Homo sapiens: one gene and its partners. The protein of the gene in region 1 purifies or fractionates together with the protein of each later gene. This does not show direct contact. Each region holds a gene or a part of one and is shown in the gene's direction. Other genes may lie near its edges. The genes, in order: ARHGEF1, WBP11, ARHGEF2, PTS, CYFIP1, NUSAP1 and PIP5K1C.

The links.
Region 2: the proteins of ARHGEF1 (region 1) and WBP11 purify together in Homo sapiens (affinity purification with mass spectrometry; one large-scale study listed by BioGRID and IntAct). This does not show direct contact.
Region 3: the proteins of ARHGEF1 (region 1) and ARHGEF2 fractionate together in Homo sapiens (co-fractionation; one large-scale study listed by BioGRID). This does not show direct contact.
Region 4: the proteins of ARHGEF1 (region 1) and PTS purify together in Homo sapiens (affinity purification with mass spectrometry; one large-scale study listed by BioGRID and IntAct). This does not show direct contact.
Region 5: the proteins of ARHGEF1 (region 1) and CYFIP1 fractionate together in Homo sapiens (co-fractionation; one large-scale study listed by BioGRID). This does not show direct contact.
Region 6: the proteins of ARHGEF1 (region 1) and NUSAP1 fractionate together in Homo sapiens (co-fractionation; one large-scale study listed by BioGRID). This does not show direct contact.
Region 7: the proteins of ARHGEF1 (region 1) and PIP5K1C purify together in Homo sapiens (affinity purification with mass spectrometry; one large-scale study listed by BioGRID and IntAct). This does not show direct contact.

The regions. Positions count from the first base shown.
Region 1 is NC_000019.10:41,903,124-41,907,557, forward strand, and holds the end of ARHGEF1 (rho guanine nucleotide exchange factor 1), read left to right. Parts: intron 1-183; coding exon 184-284; intron 285-532; coding exon of another isoform or gene 533-550; exon of another isoform or gene 551-583; coding exon 584-661; exon of another isoform or gene 662-663; intron 664-911; coding exon 912-987; intron 988-1,092; coding exon 1,093-1,260; intron 1,261-1,825; coding exon 1,826-1,913; intron 1,914-2,051; coding exon 2,052-2,138; intron 2,139-2,636; coding exon 2,637-2,704; intron 2,705-2,815; coding exon 2,816-2,902; intron 2,903-3,333; coding exon 3,334-3,497; intron 3,498-3,579; coding exon 3,580-3,663; coding exon of another isoform or gene 3,664-3,680; exon of another isoform or gene 3,681-3,685; intron 3,686-3,981; coding exon of another isoform or gene 3,982-4,290; 3' UTR 4,291-4,329; downstream 4,330-4,434. UniProt on the Homo sapiens protein: Seems to play a role in the regulation of RhoA GTPase by guanine nucleotide-binding alpha-12 (GNA12) and alpha-13 (GNA13) subunits. Acts as a GTPase-activating protein (GAP) for GNA12 and GNA13, and as guanine nucleotide exchange factor (GEF) for RhoA GTPase.
Region 2 is NC_000012.12:14,796,467-14,800,900, reverse strand, and holds part of WBP11 (WW domain-binding protein 11), read left to right. Parts: intron 1-117; coding exon 118-149; intron 150-1,172; coding exon 1,173-1,266; intron 1,267-3,897; coding exon 3,898-4,094; intron 4,095-4,434. UniProt on the Homo sapiens protein: Activates pre-mRNA splicing. May inhibit PP1 phosphatase activity.
Region 3 is NC_000001.11:155,964,576-155,969,009, reverse strand, and holds part of ARHGEF2 (rho guanine nucleotide exchange factor 2), read left to right. Parts: intron 1-2,122; coding exon 2,123-2,190; intron 2,191-2,530; coding exon 2,531-2,594; intron 2,595-3,249; coding exon 3,250-3,379; intron 3,380-3,597; coding exon 3,598-3,707; intron 3,708-3,878; coding exon 3,879-4,022; intron 4,023-4,434. UniProt on the Homo sapiens protein: Activates Rho-GTPases by promoting the exchange of GDP for GTP.
Region 4 is NC_000011.10:112,231,581-112,235,037, forward strand, and holds the end of PTS (6-pyruvoyl tetrahydrobiopterin synthase), read left to right. Parts: intron 1-1,582; coding exon 1,583-1,653; intron 1,654-1,851; coding exon 1,852-1,975; 3' UTR 1,976-2,393; downstream 2,394-3,457. UniProt on the Homo sapiens protein: Involved in the biosynthesis of tetrahydrobiopterin, an essential cofactor of aromatic amino acid hydroxylases. Catalyzes the transformation of 7,8-dihydroneopterin triphosphate into 6-pyruvoyl tetrahydropterin.
Region 5 is NC_000015.10:22,913,655-22,918,088, reverse strand, and holds part of CYFIP1 (cytoplasmic FMR1-interacting protein 1), read left to right. Parts: intron 1-153; coding exon 154-301; intron 302-775; exon of another isoform or gene 776-1,077; coding exon of another isoform or gene 1,078-1,458; coding exon 1,459-1,612; intron 1,613-3,206; coding exon 3,207-3,363; intron 3,364-4,434. UniProt on the Homo sapiens protein: Component of the CYFIP1-EIF4E-FMR1 complex which binds to the mRNA cap and mediates translational repression. In the CYFIP1-EIF4E-FMR1 complex this subunit is an adapter between EIF4E and FMR1.
Region 6 is NC_000015.10:41,370,226-41,374,659, forward strand, and holds part of NUSAP1 (nucleolar and spindle-associated protein 1), read left to right. Parts: intron 1-1,301; coding exon 1,302-1,459; intron 1,460-4,434. UniProt on the Homo sapiens protein: Microtubule-associated protein with the capacity to bundle and stabilize microtubules. May associate with chromosomes and promote the organization of mitotic spindle microtubules around them.
Region 7 is NC_000019.10:3,644,329-3,648,762, reverse strand, and holds part of PIP5K1C (phosphatidylinositol 4-phosphate 5-kinase type-1 gamma), read left to right. Parts: intron 1-54; coding exon 55-138; intron 139-1,376; coding exon 1,377-1,425; intron 1,426-2,704; coding exon 2,705-2,789; intron 2,790-4,434. UniProt on the Homo sapiens protein: Catalyzes the phosphorylation of phosphatidylinositol 4-phosphate (PtdIns(4)P/PI4P) to form phosphatidylinositol 4,5-bisphosphate (PtdIns(4,5)P2/PIP2), a lipid second messenger that regulates several cellular processes such as signal transduction, vesicle trafficking, actin cytoskeleton dynamics, cell adhesion, and cell motility.

The DNA.
Region 1 (4,434 bases):
GTTGCCCAGGCTGGCTTTGAACTCCTGGTCTCAAGCTATCCTCCCGCCTCAGCCTCCCAAAGTGCTTGGATTACAGGCGTGAGCCACCATGCCCGGCCAGCTGTCCTTTGTCTAACCTTGGCTGCCCAATCTGGAGCCTCCAGGGCAGGGGTTCACCAGAGCTGCTCTCTCCCTTGCCTGCAGAAGAGCCCACAGAACGGGAGAAAGTGGAGCTGGCAGCCGAGTGCTGCCGGGAAATTCTACACCACGTCAACCAAGCCGTGCGTGACATGGAGGACCTGCTGGTGAGCCTGGGCTGGCCCCACACCCGGGACAGTGGATGGTGTGAGAGCAGGGGGTGGACCCTACCTCAGCCTGTCCAGAAGTCACACCCCACCCCTTGGCTTGTCTCCCTCAAGGGTCACTGTGTCCAGGGGTTGGCTTGGCCCTCAGCATCTCCCTCTCAGGGTCATTGGAGGTCAGGCCCAACCCTCAGCTTGCCCGCATCAGAAGTTGGTCTTGGCTCTCATCTTACCAATGTGGGTCACTGCAGGTCAGCCCCAGCACTTAGCTTGTCCCCATAATGCTCCCGTCTCTGCCCCAGAGGCTCAAGGACTATCAGCGGCGCCTGGACTTGTCCCACCTTCGGCAGAGCAGCGACCCTATGCTGAGCGAGTTCAAGGTGTGACCATACCCTCCTGCCTCCCCCGCCCCCCTACTCCTTGGCCCAGGGGATTCTGTGATACAGCCCCCAGCCTGTCCTGCCCATCCCATAATACACCCAGGAAGCGAGAGCTCTGTCCCCCACCTCATGCCAATCCCATGATCCCCAGCCTGTGGTCATCCCCGGCCACTGCCCTGCCCTTCCCCTCCCCACCAACCCCAATCACCCCCTGCCAACCTGCACAAACCATCACCCCCTCCTGCCCCAGAACCTGGACATCACCAAGAAGAAATTGGTCCACGAGGGCCCACTGACGTGGCGGGTGACTAAGGACAAGGCAGTGGGTGAGTGCCAGAGCAGCTGCCTAGTGCAGGGTGTTGGGGCAGTGAGCCAAGGGCGGGGAGGGGGTCGCGCGGGGGCACGCCGTGTGAGCACTGCTCGCCCCGTAGAGGTGCATGTGCTGCTGCTGGACGACCTGCTGCTGCTGCTCCAGCGCCAGGACGAGCGGCTGCTGCTCAAGTCCCATAGCCGGACACTGACGCCCACGCCCGATGGCAAGACCATGCTGCGGCCCGTGCTGCGGCTCACCTCCGCCATGACCCGCGAGGTGGCCACCGGTGAGTGCAGCCACTGCATGGCCCAGGGCAGAGGGTGTCTTTTTTGGGCAGAGCTGCCTGTGGAGTGGGGAGCAGAACCCTCTAGAGAGCCAGGGAGCCAGCATTCTAGCAAAGAGGTTGAGAAGTAGGTGGAGGTGGGCAGGGCGGGGCCAGGCCTAGAGGGTTTATAAGTGAGGTAGGAACTGCTGCAGGTGTTTGCACAGAGGCGTGTCTTGTGTAAACAAGGAGAAGAAAGGCCAGGAGTCCAGTGAGGAGGGATTTGTAAACATACTACTAGGAAGTTGCACCAGGGCCACAAACACTGGAAGCGGCTGGAGGGTGGGAGTGGCTGGAGGGGTTTCGTTAGGTAAGCCAGGGTACATGCCCGATTCCATAAGGAGGTGTGAGAGGTGGGGCTCAGGAGGACACATCGGGCCCTGGATATTAGCAGACAGTGAGTGGTGAGTTGAGCCATGGGAGCCCTGAGAGCGCCACCACTGTGGGTGACTTCTCCAGCTTGTGCTTAGGGAGGGGCAGGCACTGGGGGGACCTGGGCTCTGAGCCCCATCTCCCCCTCTCCCTGCAGATCACAAAGCCTTCTACGTCCTTTTTACCTGGGACCAGGAGGCCCAGATATACGAGCTGGTGGCACAGACTGTGTCGGAGCGGAAAAAGTGAGGGGGGGTCTGAGTTCTGAGTGTGGGTGGAGGACGCCCAGGTTTCTGGGTTCCCAGGGACAGGAGGGCTGTGGGGAGGCCCTGGCATAGGGTCTGGGGGCTCTGACTGCCCAGGGATTTGGCCTTTCTCCCCAGCTGGTGTGCTCTCATCACTGAGACTGCCGGATCCCTGAAAGTCCCTGCCCCTGCCTCTCGCCCTAAGCCCCGGCCCAGCCCGAGCAGGTGAGGGGGGCCATGGAGAGAGCTGGAGGTTCAGGGAGTGGGGCCGGAAGGCGGGGCAGGCTTCCCTCCACAACTCCAGAACCGTCTCTGTGTGAGCATGCACATGTGTGAATGCATGTGTGTGCATACATGTGTGTCTGTACGCAAGTATGTGACTGTGCGTGCATATATAGTGTGTGTATGCATGCATGTGTGCGTGTGCATGTGTGTGCGTGTATGGTGTGTGTGTATGCATATGTGTGCATGCGTGTGACAGCATGTGCATGCATGTGTGTGTGTGTGCGCATGTGCCGACCCCACCACTGCCCCGTCTGTCTCCTGTCTCCAGGCCTCTGTGTCTTCCATTGTCTGGGCCTCTCTGTCTCCCTGTCTCCCGGCCTCGACCTCTGTCTCTGTCTCCGGACCTCCCTGCCTCCCCACCTCCAGCTCTCTGTCTCCCTGCCCCTGCGGCCCCCCAGGGCCAGGGGTGTGGGGTCACCCAGCACTTCCTCCCCTCAGCACCCGAGAACCCCTCCTCAGCAGCTCTGAGAACGGCAATGGTGGCCGAGAGACGTCTCCAGCTGATGGTGAGACCAGAGGGATGCTGGGTGAGGGGCCAGGTTGGGGCTGCCGGGTGAAGAGAGGCATCCACAGGAGGCCCGGCAGGATCTGAGCTCCCTCTCTGTTCCCCAATCCAGCCCGGACCGAGAGAATCCTCAGTGACCTCCTGCCCTTCTGCAGACCAGGCCCCGAGGGCCAGCTCGCTGCCACGGCCCTTCGGAAAGGTAGCCCAGCTCTGCCCCTCCAGGGTGGCCACCAGCCCAAACAGTGCCTCTGTTCCAACTAGAACAAGGCTCTCCACGTCAAAAATTTCCTTACGCCCAGCTGCCAGAAAACAAATGCTCCAAACCCACCCAGCCTGCACCACTGTCCTGGGTGCCCACGTCCCTCTTCTGCAGCCACCATCCCTTGCTTGATTCTATATTTAGCCTCTTCCTGAACACATCTCTGTCTTCAGTACCTTCCTGCCCTGTCCCAACCCTAAACCCAGCCTCACTTCTTCACCTCCCTTTGGATCCCCGAACCCCATCTGCTCAGCCTTGCCTGGCACCCACCTTCACCTCCAGCCCCTACACATCCCCTTTGGAATCCCCCATCCCAGATCCCAGCCCAGCCCCCTGGTCTCCTGACTCCACCCCTCCTTGCCCCTGGCCAGTGCTGTCCCTGAAGCAGCTTCTGTTTCCGGCGGAGGAAGACAATGGGGCGGGGCCTCCTCGAGATGGGGATGGGGTCCCAGGGGGCGGCCCCCTGAGCCCAGCACGGACCCAGGAAATCCAGGAGAACCTGCTCAGCTTGGAGGAGACCATGAAGCAGCTGGAGGTGGGGCGGGACGGGCCAGGGGTGCCCTGAGTGGGCTGGGGAAGGAAGGGGCCCCCCTCATCCATGACCCCCACCCCACCAGGAGTTGGAGGAGGAATTTTGCCGCCTGAGACCCCTCCTGTCTCAGCTTGGGGGGAACTCTGTCCCCCAGCCTGGCTGCACTTGAGGTTCCCGCCCAGGAAGGTGAGTGGGGCACCTGGGGGCCAGGGCGCTGTCCTGAAAGGAGGGTCCCCCTCCAGAGCTCGCATCCCTACAGCCCCTTCTGTCCATCTCCCTCTTTGTCTTTTCTGAATCTCCCCACTCCACCTCGTGTTTCTCATCTCTGTGTCTCTGTTTCTGATAATCTGTTTCTCTGTCTCTGTGCCCGCCTGCCTCTCCCCACCTCCCCTTCTCTCTCTGCTCTCCCTGTCTTGTCTCTGTGTCTGTCTCTCCCTGTCTCTCTCTCCATCTCTCCCCGTCTCCCCTCTTCTCCTACATCCCCCAGGCCTTTTGCAAGAAGGAGAGGAATGGGGGAGAGGACGTGAGGGACCACCCCCACCCACACAGCTGCCGCAGCATCTCACACCCCGAGGGCCTGAGGAGAGGGAGCTGTGGGCCACGCCTGGGAGGGGCCCAGCTGGGGTTACTGGCCCCGCATGAGCCTCGGCCATCTCTCCCTCCTGCCCTCTGCTTGGGGGACTCAGGGCTCCATTCTGGAGGGCACCACGGTGACCCGGGCCATCTCAGTATTGCCTGTGGGGGCCACCCCTCCACCCCCACCCCCAAGTGCCTTCGCTCTGTTTTTATACCCTGAATTGGAGGTTTATTTTTTAATATATATTATCTAAGAAGAGATCTGTGTGTGTGATGGCGGGGTGGGGCCTGGCATGGCGTCTGGAACTCTCTGTGACTGTCTGGCGTTGACATCCTGGGTCTGTGCCTCTGCGCCTCCCTCCAG
Region 2 (4,434 bases), on another chromosome or scaffold:
TCTTTTACAGTGCATACTGTAACTTTCCACAATAAAGAATTACCTGTATTAAATTGGAGGAAATGCTAATGTTCAAGATTCAAAGATTTTATTATATCTCCCTCTCTCCTTTTAAAGGAAAGGAAGCCCGGAAGAGAGAATTAAAGAAGGTATGATTTTAGAGGCATCTTATAAAACTTTAAGTATTGTTTGGTACATCTTGTGATTTGGGATTAGTGGGTTTCAGAATAACATTTCTAATATTTTCTAGAAAAGGTACTTTATGCTTTTTATAAAAACTGTAAGATATACTAAGCCAAACTTTATTTAGGAACTGAAGTAACTTTGCAGAGAAGCTCACTACAGGTTATAATGCCATTGTTTGATTACTTTTCCCAGTGAGTTAAAAAATACTTTTGAAAATAATTCTTTTTTTTACTCATTAAAACATAACTGTTTTAAAGTCTACTGATGAGGATGGAAATAAACATGATGCTAGATAGCTTTATCCATTTTCCTGATTAGCTGTCTATTACATATATTACATTAGCTTAAATATATATATGTAGGTTTATAATATTTATAGATATATTAGATTTATATATCCATTTTCCCAATTAGCATTCTCCTCTTAGCTGTTGAATTTGTGGCAAAGTACTTCAAAAGAATTAGAAAGGATTTGCCTTATAGTATTGTGCTTTATAGTATTATAGTATAATACATTGAAGCAACACAGATTTTAAATAATGTTCGATTGTGTTTTCATGTTTAGCATTAACTCCTGCAAAATTTTTAAATATTCTTTATATAATTTTAGAATTTAGCTTCAACCTTTGCTTTGGACTTCAACTAGCAGAGGTTTTACAACAGGGGGCAGGAACAATCACCCAAGGTCTTCAAGAACATAAGGGGTTAAAAAAAAGAAATTTAAAGTGTATGTGTGTTTAAGTAACTGCTAAAGATCTCAGAGTTCAAAGAAATACTTTACTAAGAAAGCACATCTTAAAAATAGCATTTCTTTATCTTTTTGACAAGTGTAAACATTTTTAAGGCAAAAAATTACATAGCTGTTTCTGGTGGTTGAAACAAGTGATCAGAAGCCAAGGAGTTATTCTGTTTAGATTCTTAAAGCAAGTTGAAGTAAAACTCCTGAGTGCCTGACTTCTTGACATCTGCCCTTTTATTTTTCTAAGAACAAAAAACAGCGCATGATGGTTCGAGCTGCAGTTTTAAAGATGAAGGATCCAAAACAGATAATCCGAGACATGGAGAAATTGGATGAAATGGGTAAGAATTTACAAACAGGCAGCTATAACAGTCTGACACGTACAGAGGCAGGCAGGTAACGAGTGAAGCAGCATAGGCGTAAGTAAAACAGAACAGCATGATGGCATTTGATGCTTGGATTTAATGTTAGTTTCAGGGAGACAAAATGGAGTGCTAGAGGGCTGTTGCAAACTGGAGACCCCAGATACCAGAATAAGAGGGAAGCGATTATTTGGCTTTCAGTTAATTGTTATTGTGAGATAACAGAAGCACAGTTTGGCCAGCTTGCTTTTTGGGAGAAGACTTAATCTGATTTATGAAATAACCTTGGGTTTTTTGTTTGTCGTCTTTTATTTAATGTTGGCAACTACCATGTAAATCTAAGTATTAGGCCCCTGTGAATATAAGGCAATTTCCAATTTTTCCAATCAGAAGATCCAAAAAGATACTTATCCATTTAGTAAGGATATAGAAAAAAATCATCAAATACCTAAAAACCAAATAATAAAATACTATACCAGGATTCTCTGCCTTTTTCACATTTTATAGAATAGTTTTATTCACTCTTCATATGCATTTTAAGTATCGCTGCTTTGTTATAACTGGAATCACATGAAATAGCTGCATGTTATCTTTTTTTGCATCTAAGTTTGAAAATCATTGATGTTGCCACTGGAAATTTTATCCTAACCCACAAATATCCATTCTGTTTAATATTAGAACATGTAGAATATTTTGTTTTTTTAATAGAAATTTTCAAACATGCAAGAAAATAAAATAGTCTAGTTAACTTCCATGTGCTTTTCACCTGTCAAGTTTCTGCCACTTTGTCTTCTACCCTTTGCCACTTTTGTAAAATAGCATTTTAAAGTGATCGTTACAAGTTCCATGTTTTGCCCAAAAACAGAGTAGTAAGTAAAAGAGATGGAATGAAACTCCTCAATGATACATTAAATGGGGTACAAAAAAAAAATTCAGTCATGGCATTAGGCTATTACAAGGTTTCTGAAATAATGTGGGAGAATCTGTGCAGCTAGCCTGGCTAAGAGTTCTGGGTCAGGCTTCAGGATCCCAGATATTTCCCAGTTCAGTTGTAACTGATTCCACTTCCTGCCTCTGGTCTAAATATCAGCAGGGATAATTACTTTCCTTGGGGAATCAGGGAATCCTTCTTTAAATGACCCCAAATGTTATGTGTTGTTTTAAAAGGAGATAATAGGAATAACTGAGGTTTCTTGAGTAGTTGTCTTGCTATACACCTACGCACCAGTTTTTTTCCACCAGTTTTCTAATCGTCACAATTTTTTAGGGTAGGTGCACTGTCCCTATTATACAGGTAAGAAAACTCAGGCATGGAGAGATTACATAGCTTTCCTCAAGGTCACACTGCTATGTAGTGGCAAAGCTGAGATTAAAACTCAGGCATTCAGCGCTTTTACTAATCACACTAGGATTAGTATGGTGTAAGAATACGCCCTCTGGATTTGAATAAATTGCCAAGATTAATAATAGTTAATAGGATTTAAGGAAGAAGATAAATTTGTTATTCTTTTAAGAAAAAGGAAAGGGGTGAAGAGAATACTATTCATCAGGGGTCTAGTTACAATTTATAAAACTCAATACAGACTAGTTAAGGCAGAAAAAAGCATGCATTGGCTGTCTTAATTAAGAAGTCTTAACATAAAAAAAAGATGAGAAATCCCTGAGAGAAACTAGCCTCAAAATCCAGTCTCATCATCAGTACTGTCCATCTGTCTAGTCTGATGTCTGTTAGCCTCATTCAGCTTACTACTAATGAACTCCTTGGGATAGAAGGTGGAATATATGTGTGTAATTAGTGATGATTGAGAGACAAGGCCACAGGCAGCTCTAGGTTTGTTTTCTCTCTACATAACACATTCAGAAAGAAAATCTGAGAGCTTATCTCTCTCACATCTACATTTAAAATCTCAGGGAATGTTCTGGTCCCAGTTTGGATCATGTGCTAATTGATCTCTGAGTCATTCACTGAAAAGGAAGATGGGGGGATATGATTGACCAGGCAGGCCTGGAGGTCTTATTCTTGGGATAGAGGACCTGCAGTTAAGCCCCATATTGACACATGATTAGTTAGGGAGAGAAAGGATTGTATAGTAGCTAGGCCAGGAATACGGATCTGTTATAAAGATTATAGTTAAGTGGTGAGTCAAACACCACTGGATATTTTATTTGTAATCCCATTGTATCATCATAGCTTTATTACAAAGTGATTAACGTCTCCATTTTTTAGATGAGGAAGCAAAAAATCAGAGAATTCAAGTAAAATGCTTAAGATCTCAAAATTTGACAGGACTAACGTAGTAGGTAAACACAAATCTGACAGAATCTTCACGAGGTTTTCAGCACAGAGCAGTGAAAATTGATTTTTATTACAATGAAGATGAAAGTCAATTAGGTGGCATTTCTGAGAAAGGTAAAATTAGTGGCCATCTAAAAAGGGTGGGGATTTTAATAAATATTGTAGTTCTTCGAATAAAATTGAAAAGAGTATGTCTGGTGTCTAGATCTCTTAAAAATTTTTTAGCATATATGGAGGTTTTTATCATGTAACCTATTGATACCTAATTGAAGTGGCCTCTTATATTTAATTCCATAATCTACTTTTTCTCTTAGAGTTTAACCCAGTGCAACAGCCACAATTAAATGAGAAAGTACTGAAAGACAAGCGTAAAAAGCTGCGTGAAACCTTTGAACGTATTCTACGACTCTATGAAAAAGAGAATCCAGATATTTACAAAGAATTGAGAAAGCTAGAAGTAGAATATGAACAGAAGAGGGCTCAACTTAGCCAATATTTTGATGCTGTCAAGGTAATCAAGGTTTTTTTTTTGAGAGATAAACTAAAATATTATACAGATTGAGTATCCCTTATGCAAAGTGCTTGGGACCAGAAGTGTTTTGGATTTAGGGTTGTTGGGTTTTTTTTATATTTTGTTTTGTTTTTGTGTATATTTGCATATATTTTGGGGATGGAACCCTAGTCTAAGCATGAAATTTATGTTTCATATACACATAGCCTGAAGATAATTTTATAAATTTTGTGCATGAAACAAAACTACGACCCATCACATTAGGTCAGGTGTGGATTTTTCCACCATGGCATCATATGGGAGTCAAAAAGTTTAGGATTTTGGAGCATTTTAGATATTC
Region 3 (4,434 bases), on another chromosome or scaffold:
CCTTGCTCCCTGTCCTCACTCTGAGGGGTGGTGGCTGTTGGAATATGGCATAAGCCGGACTATCTGGGAATGTGGGGGAGGGGAGGCTGTGCTGGCTCCTCTTGCAGCTGTCATCCACCAGGCACCCCCCTTGCTCCCCGAACAGCTGCTAAGGGTTAGGGGAACTGATTGGAGAAGGAGCAGGAATGTTGTATGTGTGGAGGGGGTGGGGTGGGGGGTGACAGAGGAACTGGGTGGAAAGCTGCCAGCCTTGCAGCTGGCTCTGCCTGTCTTCCTGCGCAGAGCTGGGCATTCAGGACTTCACAGTCCCCTTGCCCCTTTCTTTCTATTGACTATGGGTGGAGCCTGAAATCTCTGCTGTTTCAAGCAGAAGATGTGATTAGGACCCTTCATCTCAAATTTCTAGTGAGAAAGAGGGAATGTAGCAGGGATGTGTGTGTTGAGGGGCAGGGGTTAGAATTCCTGCCCTTCATCCACATCTGAGTGTAGTCCTGTCTTTAGGGAGTATAAGCCAGGAATTCTTTCCTTCCCCAGTACACAGAGGGCTCCTGCTGCCCCCTCTCCCTCAATTCCTCCTGAAGTTATGGCAGAGATGCCTCTGATTAGAGCAGGATTGAAGGTATTGTGACCTGCTACTGAATAGCGGACAAAAGCTCTAGCCTGTAAATCCCTATGAAACTTGGGGAAGGAACCCCCAGAAAGGACCAGTGATGGGCAACCCGCTCGGGTCCCCTTCTACGCTGTGGGAGCTTTGTCATTTTGCTCTTCACAATAAAGCTTGCTACCGCTCAAAAAAAAAAAAAAAAAGAAAGAAAAGAAAACCAGTGAAGCCTCCCTACTTTCCTCACTGTTCAATTTAGAGTTGTGAGGATGAGGAGGGAACCCCAATCTAGATCCCTATAGAGACCTGACAAAATTCCCAATCCGGAAGCTTGTTGCCAGGGGAACAGGGGAGGCGGGCAGCACTATTTTGAGAGCAGGTGGAAAGCGGAGGTTCAATCCAGAGACACTGAGTGTTGGGGGTAGGAGAAGGGAGCTCCAGGGGGGTGGGGGCAGCTGCAACCCCCACTTCTGTCTGCCCCCTCTGCTCCACCCTGTTTGCCTTGTATTTGTGGAAGTGAGCGTGGTGCTGGGTATTGTCTGAAAGAGTTAGCAGAGTTTCCGGTGTTGTTGGATGGGGGAGGGGAAGCTGGAGAGGGCCGGGAGCTGAGGGCATGTCTGGGAAGGGCACGGCCAGGGTCCCAGTGCCTAGGCTCAGCGAATCCTCCTTTCTTCTTCTCTCCTACCCCATGGCAAGGTGGGGTGGAGGATGGCGGAGAAGCAGATGGAGTGTGGGAGCTGTGGATTTGCCTGAGTTGGGGGAACAGGACTCCCTGGGCCTGGAAGGGAGAAGGCCAGGCTTGGTGGGGAGTTGCCTGTCCCTTCTTTACCACTGGAGCCATCAATCAGCCTTGGAGCTGCTGAGGCCCAGCCAGAGTCCAGGGCATGTGGTGCGAGGGAAGGAGCACGGCCTTTGGATTCAGGCCCACCGGAGTGTAAACACCACCTCTCCCACTAGCCGTGTGACCTCTGATGGACGATTTAGCCACTCCAGGACAGGTTCCTCATACATGAAATGAGGATAACTGAACCTCCCTCTACGGGTGGTTAGGATTAAGTAAATGTGGAACATTTACTATTATAAAAGCTCAGGGAATGTAAATTTCCCCTCTGCCCCTAGCCCCCATTCTGGCTGCCTCTGTGCCATCTTCTGTTCTGTGGGAGTCCTCTCTTCCATCTGCCATTCGCAACCACCTTCGTGCTTCTTGAGCTCATCTCTGGCAGCCAGTGACCCCTGCTCCCCTCTGGTCCGCCCTTCAGGCCACCTTGGGGTCAGGATTGCCCATCCCACTTGATTGTTTAATTTCATTCAGCACCTATACCCCCCTCACTTCATTTCCTGCTTGAAGGAAGAGGGAGGTGGGAGGAGAGGGACTGGGGTGTGGTAATGGCCCAGAAGTCGGGGAAGGGGGGAGAGTCCCCGAGGACTGTGTGGCCAGGAGGAGATGGGTGTCTGCATGTGGGTGTGTCCCCTCCTGTACCACCCGGCCCTCCCTTCACCCTCTCTACCCCACCCTCCCAGCCTGCAATGTGACTATCCACAACCGCTGTAAAGACACCCTCGCCAACTGTACCAAGGTCAAGCAGAAGGTGAGACGGCAGGGAGGGCAGAGGGCTGGGGGAGAGGGTAGTGAGTGTGCGGTACCCTCATGCCTTTTCCATTCATTCCCTACCCTGTGTTTCTCACCACCCACCTCCTCACCAAGGGGCAGCCCAGACCCTCAACCCCAGGCCTCGGGCCCCAAGTAGGCCAGGCCTGTTGCTGCAGACATGTCCCCACAGCACTGGGCTCAATCACCCTGATCCCCTTAACCATAGTGCCAGCTTTCTCCTAAGGGGGCCGGCCACCTAGCTCCTGTCCCATGCCTCTGGGGGTGATCCTTGGGTGACAGCCATTCTTGGTATCTCTCTCCTGCTCTCTGTCTCACAGCAACAGAAAGCGGCCCTGCTGAAGAACAACACCGCCTTGCAGTCCGTTTCTCTTCGAAGTAAGAGTGAGTAGTTGGGGAGTGGAGGAGGTCCCCTAAGACCCTGGACCCCAGGCTGCTCAACCCATGGGCTCTGCTGCCCCACTAAGGTTGTTCCCAGGCATAGCACCTTCCTCTTCTTGATTGGAAGCAGATAGTGGGGGCCTAAGGGAGGGTTCGGACTCTTGGACTTAGAGGCAGAAGGGGAGAGAGAGTCCGAATGGGGATGAGGGCTGGGGATGGGTGGTCGCCTGAGCCTGGCCGCAGCCTGCATTTTTATCAGTTATTTACACTGCATTTCGGGAGTGTTGGTAGCAGCTGTCAAGTGTCAATTCAGACAGCTTTGGTGTAACAGAAAGAGCATGGCCCTTAGGTATAAAGAGCAGAGCCTCAGTCCCTGCCTAGCCATTACCCAAGTCACCCTGGACAAGTCTTTTTGTCTTTCTGAGCTCCTGTTTGTTTATAGGCTTATGTCAGGGAGGAGATAAGTAAGAAAAAGCTCTTTGTGAACATTAGAGTATGGCACAAATGTAAGGTGGCATTCTCATTACCATCTTTCTTGACTAGAGGGGCTGAGGTGGAGTGAGAGGATGCCTCATTCCTCATTGAGGAGCCTAGGAGGCCTCAATCCTGGGAAGCACCAGAGTCTGATGTTTGCCTGCTGGGCATCTCTCCCCCACAGCAACCATCCGGGAGCGGCCAAGCTCGGCCATCTACCCCTCCGACAGCTTCCGGCAGTCCCTCCTGGGCTCCCGCCGTGGCCGCTCCTCCTTGTCTTTAGCCAAGAGTGTTTCTACCACCAACATTGCTGGGTGAGCCTCTGTTTGGGGAAAGGGGCAGCCAGAGAGTGTGGCAGTGGAGGCCAAGGGGGTGCTGAGAGGTCCCTTTCCATCCCTGAGTTCAGAACTGTAGACAGACAAATAAGGAGAACTTAGGGGGACCGCCTCTTGGATCCTGGCTTTGGTTCCCTACCTGGGAAGGGATCTTTTGCCCGACTGGGGGTGATGCAGACAGCCTCCACTTTCTTCAGACATTTCAATGATGAGTCTCCCCTGGGGCTGCGCCGGATCCTCTCACAGTCCACAGACTCCCTCAACATGCGGAACCGAACCCTATCCGTGGAATCCCTCATTGACGAAGGTGAGCAGGCCTGGGCCCAGGGGAGCCCTGAGGAACATGAAGAGGGGCTGGGGGATGAGAGGCTGGTGGGAGTAGCCTGGAAGGACAAGGAGGGAAGGGATCTAGAGAAGGGCCAGGGACCCAGGGAAGGGAACTCAAGACCTCTGAGTTGCTTGCCCTGCTAATGTCCAGCAGAGGTAATCTACAGTGAGCTGATGAGTGACTTTGAGATGGATGAGAAGGACTTTGCAGCTGACTCTTGGAGTCTTGCTGTGGACAGCAGCTTCCTGCAGCAGCATAAAAAGGAGGTGATGAAGCAGCAAGATGTCATCTATGGTAAGCCAAGACCACCCTAGTCTTCCTCTTCCTTCACCAGGTCCTGTTTATCTACTTCCTTCTTTATTTTTCTTTTTCTTTTTTTTTTTTTTTTTGAGATGGAGTCTCACTCTCTCAACCAGGCTGAAGTGCAGTGGCATGATCTCGGCTCACTGCAGCCTCCACCTCCCAGGTTCAAGCGATTCTCATTACAGGCGCCTGCCACCATGCTGGCTAAGTTTTGCATTTTTAGTAGAGACGGGGTTTCACCATGTTAGCCAGGCTGGTTTCAAACTCCTGACCTCAGGTGATCTGCCCGCCTCAGCCTCCCAAAGTGCTGGGATTACAGGCGTGAGCCACCGTACCCGGCTGTGTCCTTCTTTCTACCAGCCCCTACCTCTCAAAACCCTTTCCCTCTTGGCCTACAAGACCC
Region 4 (3,457 bases), on another chromosome or scaffold:
ATTAGTAATGATTACTTCTTTCACATTACTTATTCATATATTCAACAAATTTCTCTACTTCGCATCAGTTTTTGAGCTAAGTGTACAAAGATGAATGAGATGTAGCCCACAGAGTGTATACATTACTTTTTCTAGGAGGTGAAGAATATTATTAAATAACTGTTGATTTAATAAATGAGTAGAAGAATGAGTGAATGAAGAAACAGCACTATGCTCAAAATACTTTAGGAAAGTTATACAGATAGGGCCAGCATGCATTTATGGGGCAGGGGTTGGGGGGCAGGCGGAGAGAGAGAGAGAGGGAGACAGAGACAGGAGAAGAGGAGGGGGAGGGGAGGACAGGGGAGGAGAGGGGAGGGGAAAGAAAGAAAAAGAAAAAGAGAAAAGAAAAGAAAAGAAAGAAAAGAGACAAGACAGCAACATAAAAGGCCTCAACATATGACTAAATACTGGAGGAGGGCTTCTCTATGCTGTTTTCTGCTTTTGTATGCCTGAAGGACACCACACACTTTCATCAGTAAAAGTGGCTTATCATGGCATGTAGAGTAAAGTTAGAGCTCTACCGTGGGGGGAGGATTGCTTGAGTCCAGGAGTTCAAGGCTGCAGTGAGCTATGATTATGCCACTTGCACTCCAGCCTGGATGACAGAGACCCTGTCTCTAAAAACAAAACAAAAGAAAACAAAAAGCCCTGCATAAGAGGCTTTAATGGAGAAATTGGGACTGGAACTGGGATTGAAGATGAAGCAAGGATGCCCGTTTTCTTGTTATTCATGTGGAACATCCCTTCATTGGATATATTTCAATAACTGTTTGATCTAGGACTTACTCTTTTTGTATGATTCTAGTTTTTCTCAAGAAATGATTGCTGTTACTGTTATTAATGTACCCTTCTTCAAACTACGTCCTATGGAAAATTACATTTTTTTTTCACAGATGCTTAGATTTTTTGCAATAGCTAAAAGCAAAAACCTAGAAAGAATGAGGCAATTTAATCCTTGCTGATGATGAGGAAAAACATTATGTTAATATACACGAGCATTAGGGAGTAATAGTCTTTACATATATATATTTTTCCTTCTATGAGCCCAAGATCATTCTTAAATTATTCCTCATAGCAAAAATTTAGAACTACTTACATAATTTCAGTCTAGGTCTGCTTTATAAAATGTAGTAGTCACTGGATCTTTGTCCTTATGATATTGTGGCATTGTTCCGTAGGTGTGACAGTGTTATGGAAAAATATTTGTGCTAACTGTTTGGACAGGATTCACAAAGTGTTAAACTGAATTCTGAATTACAATGGCTTGTGTTGCGAGAAAGCTCCAGGAATTCTCTGCTTTTTGGTTTCTCACCTCTTTTTATTCAGTAACAAGGATTCCTAATCATTACCGACAGCTGGGCCTGACTTTATTTTACAACTTGAAATTTTGTAAAGTTGCCTTGTAAGACTCAAATCTAGTACTTACAAATATTTAGTTAGTGGCTAAGTGATAAGGTGAGGTTTAGAGGCATAAGTGGAACAATTTGGAATTTGAGTCGTAAATGGAGTCAATGATATTTTCCCTTGGTTTTGTCTCTAGGAGGCGATTATGCAGCCCCTTGATCATAAGAATCTGGATATGGATGTGCCATACTTTGCAGATGTGGTGAGGTGGGTGGCACTGTATCTTGCCTTATGTGGATTGTAAAACAAGAATTGATTTGAATACTTTGATTGTTGTGTGATTTCTGAAGTTTTAATTTAATGAAATCTTTCGAAACTAGAATTTCTATTTTCTGTAAATATTAAACATGAAATTTTATTGTTTGCATTTTGAATTTTTTTTGTTTTTGTTTTTTTTTCTTATAGCACGACTGAAAATGTAGCTGTTTATATCTGGGACAACCTCCAGAAAGTTCTTCCTGTAGGAGTTCTTTATAAAGTAAAAGTATACGAAACTGACAATAATATTGTGGTTTATAAAGGAGAATAGCTATTGGGGTTAGCATTGCACAAAGCCCAGTTTCTTTCTGTGTTTGAAAAAGATTTTGATCCCCTTGGAATATTAAGAGGTCAACACGTGATTGTTGTACGTACACATTGTGCTCTGGAGTGCCTATTTATTGAAATCATTGTAAGACCTGTTATAAATTTAAGTCTATTTAAAACTAAACTTGTAATATACATCCTGAAAATCATTTAGAGAGTCTTTTATTTATAAATTAAAAATCACTTCATTTTCACAAAATGTTTTGGTGTGGGATTATTTGAAAGCAAAAGAAATCTAATTTTGTTTTCTCCATTACCTCATTTTAGTATTAATTTTTACTTGGTATAATATACATGGTTAAAATGCTTATGTGACTTCGAGTAGGTGAATCTTAAAGAAATAAAATTCAAGTGACCACAAAGTCTGGAGACAATATATATATGTATATTTAATAGATTGAACTCTCTTGATTACTACTTGTTGGGTGTGCTGAAGGCATAAGTGGATTCAGTGAAAATTAGACACACAAATCATGTGAGGCATCTGTTGTGGATACACGTACAAATATTGATGGAAATGCTGCTTTAGAGCACATCATTCATTACAATTTTGCACAGCGTATTGAACTATGAATTGCTAGTGAGGAACAACACATTAAACATATCATGGAATATCAGTAAATTATTCAGTATACTCCTCTGAATTTCTGAACCTGATGGGCACTTGAATAATTTCAACTCAGAAGACTGCAGAATAATCATATTTTAAACTCTAAAAAATAGTCAGCATAAAAAGGATCAACTACCATATAAAATATTTCCTGTATATAGTTTTTCCTAATTGATCCCATTTTGTTCTGATTATTAAACTTACTATATGCTTGGCATTCTTCTCTGGGATCTTTTCCTCGTGACTAAATCCACAAGAAAGTATTTGCTTACTTTGCACGGAAGACTGTTCTGTGTTCTTGTTTGTTTTCTAAATGTCTTAAACGCAGGGTTCTGATTTTCTCTCCACATAGCAACTAGTATACAATGAATTCCCAGAATGTTGTTGCCTGAAAATAGTAAAAGGACTTTTGCAGTGATTACTATTCTAGAAAAACTTGCAAAGAATAGTCTTTTCTAGTGATTGCAGAAATATAAAGTTTGACAGTAATGCAAATGGCCACTGAATTATATTTGAATGTATTTTAGTTATCAAACAATTTGTTCTCTATGTAGAATGTTTTGTATTGATTACTTGAAAGGCAGATAGCTGTTATTTATTAAGACACTTTATGTTTTAATTCACACAAATACCCTGCAAGGTAGGTATTCTCATTCTTTAGGTAAGATAATTAAAGTTGAGAGAGTTTAAACTATTTGCTTTAGATCATTCAGCAAATAAATTGCAAACTGGATGTTTAACATTCAGGGTCTTTCTGACTCCAAAACACAGACTCTGAAAAGGGACAATTTGAATATTTCCAGATTTTTTGAGAGT
Region 5 (4,434 bases), on another chromosome or scaffold:
GTCCATTACCACATCCCTCCATGGCCCCCAGAGTAATTTGTATTTTCATGGGGGCTGTTCTGAGAGCCTTGTAGTTGGGTGAGGAGATGGTGTGATTGTGAGGCTGGAGGTCTCGGCCTCTGGGCCTTGCTGATCACTTGGTGGGGTGTTCAGTGTCCTGCAGGCCATCAGGAAGACCGTGTGTGACTGGGAGACGGGGCATGAGCCCTTCAATGACCCAGCCTTGCGGGGCGAGAAGGACCCCAAGAGCGGCTTCGACATAAAAGTACCACGCCGCGCCGTGGGACCCTCCAGCACTCAGGTTCTCGTCCCTTGAGCCCCGCCTGCACCCTCTCCCTGGGGGGACCCACCCTGAGCTGTGAGCGGGTGGGGCTGGTGAGGCCCGGGTTAAATGAGGTCCTCGCTGCCTGCTCAGGCAGAGAAAGTGGCGCCTGTGGTTTCTGCTGCTCCTCTGTTTCCCACCCAAGTGAGTTGGGAGCGTGAGGAGACGTGCCTTGATTGTCAGATGTGTCATGTGCACTAAAAAGGAGTCTGACTCCATTTCAACTCCCATCCCAAAAATGTGGGCACAAGTCCACGTGTCTGTATTCATTCTGTGTTTCTTGATGGGTGTTTGAATGTCTGTATAATTTTTACGTTGGGTCTGCAAATGACTGTAGATGGGGCGTGGGAAACTGTGAGGTGCTGCTTGCGTGTGTCATGGTCCTAAGCTGCCCACTGTCCTCTCTCCTGGTGTGTTCAGGCCTCCCCGAGGTGCTTCTCACGACTTTCACACCCGGTTTAATCCACACCGCTGCGTCTGTCCTCCGTCCTGGGGCTGGTCTTCTCCCTCATCTCTGCCGGAGGCTTTTAATCTCTTCTGCCACTCTTCTGGAAAGTCACCAGCAATGCACGCTGCTGGCTCTGCAGGAGGGTCAGGGGGACGGCCCTCGGCCTGTGCGTGGTGCCAGCCACCCTCCCTGCCTCCCTCTGCGTGCGTCCCGTGTCCCTGCCTGGGGTGTGTGTGTCGAGTGACTAACGTCTCTCTCCTGCCTCTCCCTCCTGTCTGTCCGTGTCTAGCTCTACCTGGTGCGCACCATGGCCGAGTCCTTGGGCTCTGCCGAGCTGCTCAGGCAGCTCAAGTCTCTGGGCATGGAGAGGCTCTTGCATGCGGTTAACACGTTTCTGAGGCAGTCGTGCACCTACCTACCCCTTTTAACCTTTGGTGGTAAGACATCATTTGTTTCTCTTGACGTTTATGGCACGGAGGCGAACTGCTCCGCTACAAGTTGTTCTTTCCCCAAAGCAGCAGCAACGTGGCCGCGTAGACAGGCACCCGGACCCCTCGGGGAGCTGGTGCGGGGCCCTCCCGACCAGGGCGTAGCGGAGCAGTCCTTCTCTCATGGGCTTTTTGAGTTTGGCATAACTAATGTACCATGTATATTTTCTCCCCCACAAATGTTTCCTTGGATAATCCAGCTTTACATGGTGAGAACCATGCTAGAGTCCCTCATTGCAGACAAAAGTGGTTCCAAGAAAACCTTGAGAAGTAGCCTTGAGGGGCCCACCATATTGGACATAGAAAAATTTCATCGAGAGTCATTCTTCTACACTCACTTGATAAATTTCAGTGGTAAGAGATACTGCTGAGCAGCATCCGGCCTGGCATGTCCTAACACCACTAACACCGTCTAGAATGCTTCCGCCCGCCTGACCACCCCCTACCCCGTCCCTTGGTGCACCCAGACGGTGACTCGTCCTGCCCTCTGTGGCGGTGGCTGTACGTCCCTGGCCTGAGCTCGCTCCACAGGGCGTGGTCCCTACAAGGGTATAAACTGAGGAGCCCGGGCTGGCCCTGAGACATGAACAGAAAATCTTTTCAACCCATGCGGGGTTGGAAACAGGCGAATGTAATCTGGTGCCTGAGTTGAGACACAGGCATTGATAAATACTAGAAATGGCCCTTGCAGACCATGACGTGGGGGGAAGGTGGCGGGTGCCCTGTGCCAGGCAAGCCCATCCTGGGTGACACCCGGCCACCTTGACCGGCCACCGGTGGGTGCGCTCTCTGCCCTCCGTGTGTCTGTCCCGTGTTCTCATCAAGTCCTCCGTTGTCCACCTCTTGCTCAGAACAGGATCCCTGCTGTCTTGGCTGGGGTGCTGCGAGGTATTGGAGGAAATAGTACCACTTTTGCTGTTAACTCCATGAAAGGATGGAGTTCGAGTGTGGGCTCTTTTAATCTGTCTCATTTTTGCGTTAGACAGACCTCCCTGAGTGTGCCTCTAATGCTGCAGCCTGGACATTGGTTTTTATCCTAAGTGAAAGTGAAGAAGTCCTGTTTTTTTGTTTTGTTTTTTGTTGAGACGAAGTCTTGCTCTGTCACCCAGGCTAGAGTACAGTGGGGCGATCTCAGCTCACTGCAAGCTCCGCCTCCCAGGTTCAAGAGATTCTCCTCCCTCAGCCTCCCAAGTAGCTGGGATTATAGGTGCTCACCACTGCGCCTGGCTAATTTTTGTATTTTTAGTAGAGATGGGGTTTTACCATGTTGGCCAGGCTGGTCTCAAACTCCTGACCTTGTGATCCACCCGCCTCGGCCTCCCAAAGTGCTAGGATTACAGGCGTGAGCCACTGTGCCCAGCCAGAAGTCCTGTTTTTATGTCTCCTTTTGAGAAGAACATTTTTAGGTAAGACACAGTGGCTCATACCTGTTAATCCTAACACTTTGGGAAGCCAAGGCAGGAGAATCACTTGAATTCGGGAGTTTGAGACCAGCCTGGGCAACATGGCGAGACCCCCATCTCTATAAAAAATACAAAATCAGTTGGTGGCACGTGCCTGTGTTCTCAGCTACTTGGGAGGCTGAGGCAGGAGGATCGCTTGAGCCCAGGAGTTGAAGGCTGCAGTAAGCTATGATCGCGCCACTCACCTCCAGCCTGGGTGACAGAGTGAGATAGACTCTGTCTCAAAAAAAAAAAAAAGACACTTTCCCCCTGGATCCCACTGAAGGGCTCACAGGGTTGATGAGGTGGCTTTACCTGCAGCTATGCCCAGCTGGTCCTGTCCCTAGTGCAAGGCCCCGGTGACCCCTCCCCACTCATGTCCATGCTGCATGGCTTGGGGCTGAGCGAGGAGGAGCAGGCACCCAGCACACAGCCCTTGTGTCATCTCTGCTAAAGGTTTTTTTTTGCTTGCGGGAGATAACATGGAGTTGTTTGAACCCTCCCAGAAACGCTGCAGCAGTGCTGTGACCTTTCGCAGCTGTGGTTCCGAGAGTTCTTCCTGGAGCTGACCATGGGCAGGAGGATCCAGTTCCCCATTGAGATGTCGATGCCCTGGATCCTGACGGACCACATCCTGGAGACCAAGGAGGCATCGATGATGGAGTGCGTGTCCTGCGGGCCTGTCTCCAGCCTTTGTGTGTGGTGACCGGGGGTCCTCAGAGGAGGTGGCGGAGAGGCCGGGACTGTTTTTAGTATTGTATTTGAAATCAAGTTTCTGGGCCTGGGCAAAATAGCAAGACCCCAGTCTCTACAAAAATGAGAAAACTTAGCCTGGTGTGGTGGCTGATGCGGGAGGATTGCTTTACCACAGAAATTTGTGGCTGCATTGAGCTATGGATTGCACCACTGCATTCCAGCCTGGCCACGTAGCAAGACCCTGTCTCCAAATAAAAAAAAAAAAAAGAGAAATCATGTTTCCTGGGGTAAAGCTTTAGAGATTAATACAAGTAACTAACCAGTTTCTTGGTGTCAGACTGGAATTGAGAGCTCAGGCACTAGAACCAGTCACGTTCCTACTTTGCATGGGTGCTGGCTGGGACCCGGGGACTCAGCCTGGACCAGGGAGATGGATGAACCTGGACCTTCCCCAGGCCTTCGTAGTGCAGGCCCTGTGAGGTGGCCATGCCCGTGAGCTGCCTTGCGGGAGCCCTGTGGCCTGGCCTTTTGTGTGACACAGCCTCTGACCCAGATGAAGTGGGGAAAGGAAGTATTGATTGAACAGCTTTGTTCTGGGGATCAGGACTGTGGACCTAGATGGAAGGGCAGTCTTTCAAAATATAAAGTTCATGGAAGGGAAAGTGTTTGGAAAAGGGTGTGTCTCATGGTGAGCGACTGGGGAGCCGCCCAGCCGGTCTGTCTTCTGAGCACCGTGAGTGGGAAGCCCCTGAGTTCCTTGTGCGTCAGTCCTCACACATCCCTTGTGGTGCCCAGGAGATGGTAAGGGCAGTCACCTTCCACTCTCTGTGGCTGTGGCATGGCCATGCCATTTGTGTGGGCAGAGCCTCTGATGGCTCGTTGCACAGCATTGGGGTGGCGTGAGGAGCTGGAACCAGCTTGGAGGCCTCCTTCAGGCATGGGCCTCCTTGCCCCTGGCCATGGCCTTTGTCCAGATATGAGGTAGTGGGAGACGGGCCTTCAACCATGGGCCATGCTGGACATGCTCCTGGTGAGCTG
Region 6 (4,434 bases), on another chromosome or scaffold:
AAAAAAAATAGCCGGGCGTAGTGGCGGGCGCCTATAGTCCCAGCTACTTGGGAGGCTGAGGCAGGAGAATGGTGTTAACCCAGGAGGCGGAGCTTGCAGTTAGCTGAGATCGCACCACTGCCCTCCAGCCTGGGCGACATAGCGAGACTCCGTCTCCAAATGGGTGAATGGTTGAAGCCCAGGAGTTTGAGAGCAGCCTGGCCAACATGGCAAAACCCCATCTCTACTAAAAATATAAAAATTAGCTGGGCGCGGTGGCTCATGCTTGTAATCCCAGCACTTTGAGAGACTGAGGCAGGCGGATCACCTGAGATCAGGAGTTTGAGACCAGCCTGACCAACATGGTGAAACCCCATCTCTACTAAAAATACAAAATTAGCCGGGCATGGTGGCGCATGCCTGTAATCATAGCTACTGGGGAGGCTGAGGCAGTAGAATCGCTTGAACCTGGGAGGCAGAGGTTGCAGTGACCCAACATCGCACCATTGCACTCCAGCCTGGGCGACCGAGCAAAACTCCATCTCAAAAAAAAAAAAAAAAAAAAAAATTAGCCAGGCGCAGTGGCACATACCCATAGTCCCAGCCACTCGGGAGGCTGAGGCAGGAGGATGGCTTGAGCCTAGGAGGCAGAGGTTATAGCAAGCTGAGATCATACCACTGCATGCCAGCCTGGGTAATAGAGCCAGAACCTGTCTCAAGAAAAAACACTACCAATTAACTATTGACATCTTATGAATTGTAAAAACACATCCCAATTTCAGAGATGTTAAAATGTAGAAAAAATACTATCAGTCAATCAATCAAATACATTTGTGGCAATTTGCCATATGTAAAGAATGGTAAAGAATGGGCTTATTTCTCTACCACACAAATGAATGACATTCTTTTAGGAACATACAAGACCTGTTCTCACCACTCACCTAGCATAGCAGTCTTCTGCTACCTGTGACTTCCCCTAACCTGGAGGAGGAGGAGGAGGAGGAGGAAGGGGAGCTTTTGGCTTGCCTCTTGGACTATAATGAGGCCTCCACACCTATTCCTCCATCACCATCATTGTCCAAGGCAGGGAGAGCAGAAAAGACAAGAACATATTTTACAAATAATGTTAGTTGATATGTGATTTAATTTAGCATTAGCCTTTTAGGAATATGTCTCTTCTGCAAAAGAGGTTCGTTCCTATGACAATTATTAATTGAGGCCCTTTTCACTGCTTGCTAATAGTCAAGTGGTTTTATTTATAAGCTAGACACAAGTTACTCTTGCCACAGTACTCATGTCTTGTACTCTGCTGTCCTATTTAGGTTTTCAGCTGCTACTAAAGATAATGAGCATAAGCGTTCACTGACCAAGACTCCAGCCAGAAAGTCTGCACATGTGACCGTGTCTGGGGGCACCCCAAAAGGCGAGGCTGTGCTTGGGACACACAAATTAAAGACCATCACGGGGAATTCTGCTGCTGGTAAAAAAAAAAAAAAACAAAAGAAATCTGTTTCATTTTTAAGCCATGTAACTTCCCAAAATGATTAGGTATATCTGTTTTTTTTGTTTGTTTGTTTTTTTCTGAGATGGAGTTTCGCTTTTGTCACCCAGGCTAGAGTGTAATGGCGGGATCTCGGCTCACTGCAACCTCTGCCTCCCAGGTTCAAGCAATTCTCCTGCCTCAGCCTCCTGAGTAGCTGGGACTACAGACACATGCCACCATGCCCGGCTAATTTTGTATTTTTAATAGAGACAGTTTCACCATGTTGGTCAGGCTGGTCTCAAACTCCTGACCTCAGGTGATCCGCCCGCCTCGGCCTACCAAAGTGCTGGGATTACAAGCGTGAGCCACTGCGCCCGGCCTGTATCTGTTTCCTTAAACCCTTTCCATTTCTATAATCAAAAGCAAAAATTTTACCATAGTGTATTTTTAATTGTGTACTAGTGGGGGAAATGCCAGAGACATAAGCAAAAACCAGATATCTGCCTGAGAGCTCCATCTAATCCTAAAATGGTGACCCTCCAGGAAGGGCACTGTGCCCCTTGTGGGACTCAGGGATTCGGAGGATGAGCACAGTATTCGTTGCAGCCTCGGAAAGGTCCTGGAGGACTCTGACACTAACAGGATCCCAGACCACAGACTTCATGTTTCAAGATTCAACCATGTTGACTCGTTTTCACAGTATTTTTCAGTGGTGTGGGTATATGTCAGTTTATCTATTTTACTATTCACGAACATGTGGGTGGTTCCAGCTTCCATTATTATATATGATGTTGCTATGAATACTCTTAAACATGTCTCCTGTACATGTGCAAGAGTTTCCCTAGACCTAGGAGCAGGACAGCTGGATTGGAAAATATGCAGACATTTACTGTCCTGAATGAATTGTACCAATCTGTGCTTCCAGTGGCAGTGTATGGCAGTCCCTTGTTCTACTCCCTGTCAGCATTTGATACTGATACAGTGGGATAGCTTGAACACAGGGTTTTGTGCTTTTTTTTAACTAAGTGGTCTTAGATCCTGATTGCTGTTTCACAGATGTAGGCAAGGGTTCACATTTGGCAATGACCTGTGGCTTCCCCCTATGAAAAGAAAGGATTGGCCGGACGCAGTGGCTCTTGCCTGTAATCCCAGCACTTAGGGAGGCCGAGGTGGGTGGATCACTTGAGGTCAGAATTTCAAGACCAGCCTGGCCAACATGGTGAAACCCCAACTCTACTAAAAATACAAAAATTAGCCGGGCATGGTGGCATGCACCTATCATCCCAACTACTCAAGAGGCTGAGGTAGGAGAATCGCTTGAACCAGGAAGCAGAGGTTGCAGTGAGCCGAGATTGTGCCACTGCACTCCAGCCAGCCTGGGCAACACAGTGAAACCCTGTCTCAAAAAAAAAAAGAGATTGGGAGAGAAAGGATTAACTGATGGCCAACTGTAGCAAAAAGGCTAACTAAACTACACCATCCTTAGGCTGGGCATGGTGGCATGGAGACCAACCTGGCCAACATGGCAAAACCTCGTCTCTACTAAAAATACGAAAATTAGCCGGGCGTGGTGGCACGCGCCTGTAATCCCAGCTACTCACTTGAGAATCACTTGAACCCAGGAGGCAGAGGTTGCACTGAGCTGAGATCACATCACTGTACTCCAGCCTGGGAGACAGAGCAAGACTCCGTCTCAAAAAAATTAAAAAAAACTACACCATCCTGGATATTTTTAACTTCGTGGTGCAAAAATTCATATTCTTTTTTTTTTTTTTTTTTTGAGACGGAGTCTCACTCTATCACCCAGGCTGGAGTGCAGTGGCACCATCTTGGCTCACTGCAACCTCCGCCTCCTGGGTTCACGCCATTCTCCTGCCTCAGCCTCCCGAGTAGCTGGGACTACAAGTGCCCGCCACCACGCCCGGCTAATTTTTGTATTTTTGGTAGAGACAGGGTGTCACCGTATTGGCCAGGTTGGTCTTGAACTCCTGACCTCGTGATCCGCTCACCTCGGCCTGCCAAAGTGCTGGGATTACAGGCATGAGCCACCGCGCCCAGCCAAAAATTAATATTCTGAAGTGATAAGAGCCCTTATTAATAATATTCCTGACTTTAAACAATCCTCCTGCCTCAGCCTCCCAAAGTGCTGAGATTACAGGTGTGAGCCATATCTGTTATCAGGGAAATAAGCTGAAAAGTTACCGTCATTTCCTTCAACAGAATTCTAAACTCCCAGCTGATCCTAGGATCCCAGCACTTTGGGAGGCCAAGGCAGGTGGATCATGAGTTCAGGAGATTGAGACCATCCTGGCTAACACACTGAAACCCCGTCTCTACTAAAAATACAAAAACAAAATATTCAGAACATTTACAAAGCTGCTTAGCAAAGGAAATTAATCTCAATGGTTAGCTTTCCTCAATTATTGTTTTCCCCTTTTCTCCATTTTAACCCTTATTTCAGACTTTCATCTATTTCAGACTATTCATGTAGATTGTCTTAGTCCTTTGCGGCTGCTATTATATAACAAAGCACCAAAGACTGTATCTTATAAACAGCGGTAATTTCTTTCTCATAGTTCTGGAGGCTGGATGAGGGCAGATCAGGGCACTAGCATGATTCTGGTGAGGGCTGTTTTCCAGGTAGCAGACTACCAACTTCTTGTTGTATGCTCATGTGGCAGAAAGAGAGCTAGAGAAAATTCTATGGGGTCCCTATATAAGGCCCTGAATCCCATTCATGACCTATTTACCTCCCAAAGGCCCTACTTCCTTACACCAGTCATATTGACAGTTAGGATTTCAATATGAATTTGGGATCGCAGGAGATACAAACATTCAAGCTATAACTTTTTTCTTTTTTTGAGACACAGTCTCACTGTCGCCAGGCTGGAGTGCTGTGGTGCAATCTCGGCTCGCTGCAACCTCCGACTCCCTGGTTCAAGGGATTCTCCTGCCTCAGCTTCCTGAGTAGC
Region 7 (4,434 bases), about 38 Mb from region 1:
CCCCGAGTCCCAGCTCTGCGGGATGCTGATGGTACCCTCGGCCTCTCTCCCCAGGATGGGCGGGATCCCCGCTGTGAACGGCCGCGGGGAGCGGCTGCTGCTGCACATTGGCATCATCGACATCCTGCAGTCCTACAGGTGGGTGCCCGGGTCTGCAGTCCTACAGGTGGACGCCCCGGGTCTGCAGTCCCACAGGTGGGCGCCCGGGTCTGCAGCCCCACAGGTGGGCGCCCGGGTCTGCAGCCCCACAGGTGGGCGCCTGGGTCTGCAGTCCCACAGGTGGATGGGCGCCCCCAGGACACCCATGCACAGAGGCGCTTGCCCGTGGAAACAGCCGCACCAGCAGCTCTCGGGGCTTCCTCAACCTGGAAAGCTCTTGCTTGGCTGCCCCTTCTTGAGCCCTAAAGGGAAGGTGTTTGGTCGCCTTGAAAATCTAGAGTGAGTTGGGCGTAGTGGTCCACACCTGTAATCTAGCACTGTGGGAGGCCGAGGCGGGAGGATTGCTTGAGCCCAGGAGTTTGAGACCAGCCTGGGCAACATAGCAAGACCCCATCTCTACAAAATATCAAAAAATTAGCTGAGCGTGGTGGTGCTCCTGCAGTCCCAGCTACTTGGGAGGCCGAGGCAGGAGGATTCCTTGGGCCCAGGAGTCTGGGGCTGCAGCAGTGAGCTATGATGGCCGTACTGCACCCCAGGCTGGGTGACAGAGCAAGACCCTGTCCCAAAAAAAAAGAAAAAAGAAAATCCAAGGAGTGGGTTTGAGGCCTCACTTTGGGGCTCGAATATTTGTTTTTTGGTTTTTCATTTGTTTGTTTTAAGACAAAGTCTCGCTCTGTCACTCAGGCCGAAGAGCATTGGTGCGATCTTGGCTCACTGCAACCTCTGCCTTCTGAGTCGACCCTATTCTCCTGCCCCAGCCTCCCCAGTAGCTGGGATTACTGGCACGCGCCAGCACGCCCGGCTAATTTTTGTATTTTTAGTAGAGATGGGGTTTCACCATGTTGGCCAGGCTGGTCTTGAACTCCTGATCTCAGGTGATCTGCCTGCCTTGGCCTCCCAAAGTGCTGGGATTACAGGTGTGAGCCACCGTGCTCAGCTGGGGCTCTAGAATGTTTAAAAACAGTCACCCCCTCGGTACTATGGACATTGGGACCAGATGGTTCTCTGGGGTGGGGCCGTCCTGGGCCCTGCAGGGTACTGAGCAGAGAGCCTCCACCCACTCCCTGCCAGGAGCACCTGCCACCCTGAGTTTTGACAGCCACGACTGCTTGAGGCCATGGCCCAGTGTCCTGGGGGGTGCACAGTGGCCCCTGAGTGAGGTGGCCTGGCATGGGCTTGGCTGATGTCAGCTGCCACTCCGGGTGCTCTCTCCACAGGTTCATCAAGAAACTGGAGCACACCTGGAAGGCCCTCGTCCACGATGGGGTGAGCGCCTGCACCCTCCTCCCATTCCTCCTCCCATCCCTCCTCCTCCTGTGAGTGCCTGCACCCTCCTCCCATCCCTCCTCCCTCTGTGAGTGCCTGCACCCTCCTCCCATCCCTCCTCCCATCCCTCCTCCTCCTGTGAGTGCCTGCACCCTCCTCCCATCCCTCCTCTGTGAGTGCCTGCACCCTCCTCCCATCCCTCCTCTGTGAGTGCCTGCACCCTCCCCCCATCCCTCCTCCCTCTGTGAGCGCCTGCACCCTCCTCCCATCCCTCCTCCCTCTGTGAGCACCTGCACCCCTCCTCCCATCCCTCCTCCCTCTGTGAGCGCCTGCACCCTCCTCCCATCCTTCCTCCCTGTGAGCGCCTGCACCCCTCCTCCCATCCCTCCTCCCTCTGTGAGTGCCTGCACCCCTCCTCCCATCCTTCCTCCCTCTGTCCTCCTGTCTGTCGTCCCAGCCTTCCTCCCATCCGTCACTCCACAAACGCAGAGTACCGCCTGGGGCCAGGCACTGAGGACTAACGTCTGTGTGACCACAGCCTGTAGAATCCAAGATCCCAACAGGCACCCCCATTTTTCAAAAGAGCGTGTAGAAGGTCCAGGCAGGAGCTTCCAGAATAAGCCTTGAGCGGGTCAGGATGGCAGCTGGCAGAGGCCTCTGGGGATGTCTTAAACCTTGCCAAGGCCCGGAACCTGCTGCCCAGGGCAGATAGGAGCGCTGTCTCGGCTCTGACGAGGCTGGCCAGGGTGTCCTGTGCTGCCGCCGCATGTCCCTGGGGTTGTCCTTGTCCCCTGGCCCAGAGTGGCCGGGCACCACCTCCCACTGCAGCCTGCGGGGGTGGAGTCGTTCACAGTCCTGGTACGTGGCCACTCCTCACCCAAGGAGGCTGGGAAAGGAGGTTGCATTCTGGGAGGCCGAGATCACATCCCAGCAGGGCCCCAGCCAGGCCATCCTGCCTCAGCCTCCCCTACAAGTCCACGTGGGCCACTGTGCCTGGCCGGAATACTTTATTCAGCTGGTTTAAAAAGTCAAAAATGCTAACAGGTCTCTAGTGGAAAAGCCTCCACCCATTCCCTGGCACCCAGTCTCCCTCCCCAGAGGGAGCCACTGTTCCCTGTTCCGTGAGCCCCTCCCAGGAAGCCATGGCGCCATGGACCCATCTCGAGCCTTTTCACACAGAAGGTGCCCCCCACACACATACAGCGTCTGTCTGGGGCTGTCCCCAGCTGTTGATTGATGCACCCTCTGCCCCCGGGCACCCCCCCCAACTCTCTTCCAGGACACGGTGTCCGTCCACCGCCCCAGCTTCTATGCCGAGCGCTTTTTCAAGTTCATGAGCAACACGGTCTTTCGGAAGAACTCCTGTAAGCCACCTGAGCCCCGCAAGGCGGGAGGGACCCTGGGGAAGGCCCAGAGCGCCGTGGGGCAGGAGGGACTCTGCGGGAGGCCGAGAGCCCCCTGGGCAGGGCAGTAAACTCAGAGCCCCTGTGCCCCCCTCAGACCGGGCCTCATCCGGAGGTAGGGTAGTCGGGATATTTGCTCTGCACAGCGGTAGAGCACGGGTCTGGAGCCACCGCCAGAGCCTGAATCCTAGCCTGGCCTCGTCCTGCCCATGTGGCCTTGAGCAGGCACCTGCCTCTGTGCCTTGGTTTCCCCATTGGCACAGCACTGTGAGGGTACAGTGTTTATATATGGGATGGGTGGGCCTGACTCAGCAGATAGCTCACAGTGTGTGGGGCTGCCCACAGCATCACCATCGCCAAGGAAACGCACCCCGGGCAGGGGAACGCAGGAGGCTAGCCCAGCAGGGCATGGTCGGGAAGGTCCCAGGGCAAACAGTGGTGGGGAAGGTGGGGACTCGGGATTCACCCACAGGGTGCCCGGGGGAGGTCCCCATCTCTCAGGGCTCAGCTTCCCCTCATGGGCCACTGTAGCATCTGGACGCAGACTCTGGGTTCCAGGCCCCTGTGCAGACCTCAGCCCGTGGCCAACCTGCTGCCAGATGGATTCCCCCCTGGGGTCTGTTTCTCAGCCACCCTCCCCACCAGAAGGCTCCCGGGCTCCCCAGCATCCTGCACAGGCCTGGCCCACAGAGATGCTTGGGAAGTGTCTGGTGGGGGGCATGAATGATCTGCGGGTCCGCACCCACGGGGGTTGCAGGGAGGTGGCAGGGACAGGCACGCCAGTGCCCAGCGCTTGCAGGCAGGCTGCTCTTCCCGGCCTGCACACTTGCTCACGGCCTCGAGGTCAGGGACCCCCTCTCATCAACACCGTGGGAATTGGCAGACACCACGTGTCAGGATCTGTCTCCAGAGAGCCAGCCGTTGAGCCTGTCCCCACACCCCACTCTCTGGGACCGATGCCACAGGATCATTCCGTCATCCAGGGCTGTTTGCCAGCCTTTGGTGATTGTAGGAAGCTGCACAAGGCAAACTGAGCACCTACTGTTTACCAGGAGCTGTGTGGGTCATTCTGGGGGCAGAGGTCACAAGAGCTTGGTGAGGAGGCAGAGCTCACACAGCACTGAGGACAGGCCTGGCCCTGTGCGGGACATCACCTGCCCCACCTCACCCCACCGCTAAGGTCGGCCCCCAGGGCCCAGAGAGACCGAGCCGCACAGCCAGCGGGTGAGCCTGGATCTGCGCTCAGGCCCTACATGCTGAGCCACAGGCTTCTCTAACCACAACACCTGGTGCTCCCCAAGGCTGTCAGTGTCCATCTGAAAGTGGGGGCCCTGCCCGGGCTGGGCCGCACATAGAAGGGGTTGAAGCCTGCAGGCATCCCTGGCCAGCTCATTAGATGGGAGTCACTGGTCTGCAGGATCCCAGGAGGGGCAGGCACTGTGCCAGGTCCCAGTGTGTCTCATAGAGACAGTCGGGTGGGCAGGACAGGGAACTCGGGCTCGCAGTCCCTCCCCAGGCAGACCCCGGTTTTCCACCAAGAGGTTGTGGTGCTTCCTGGCCTCAGGGACCGGTAGGGGTCTGGTGGGCCACAGGGACGTGGGGTATA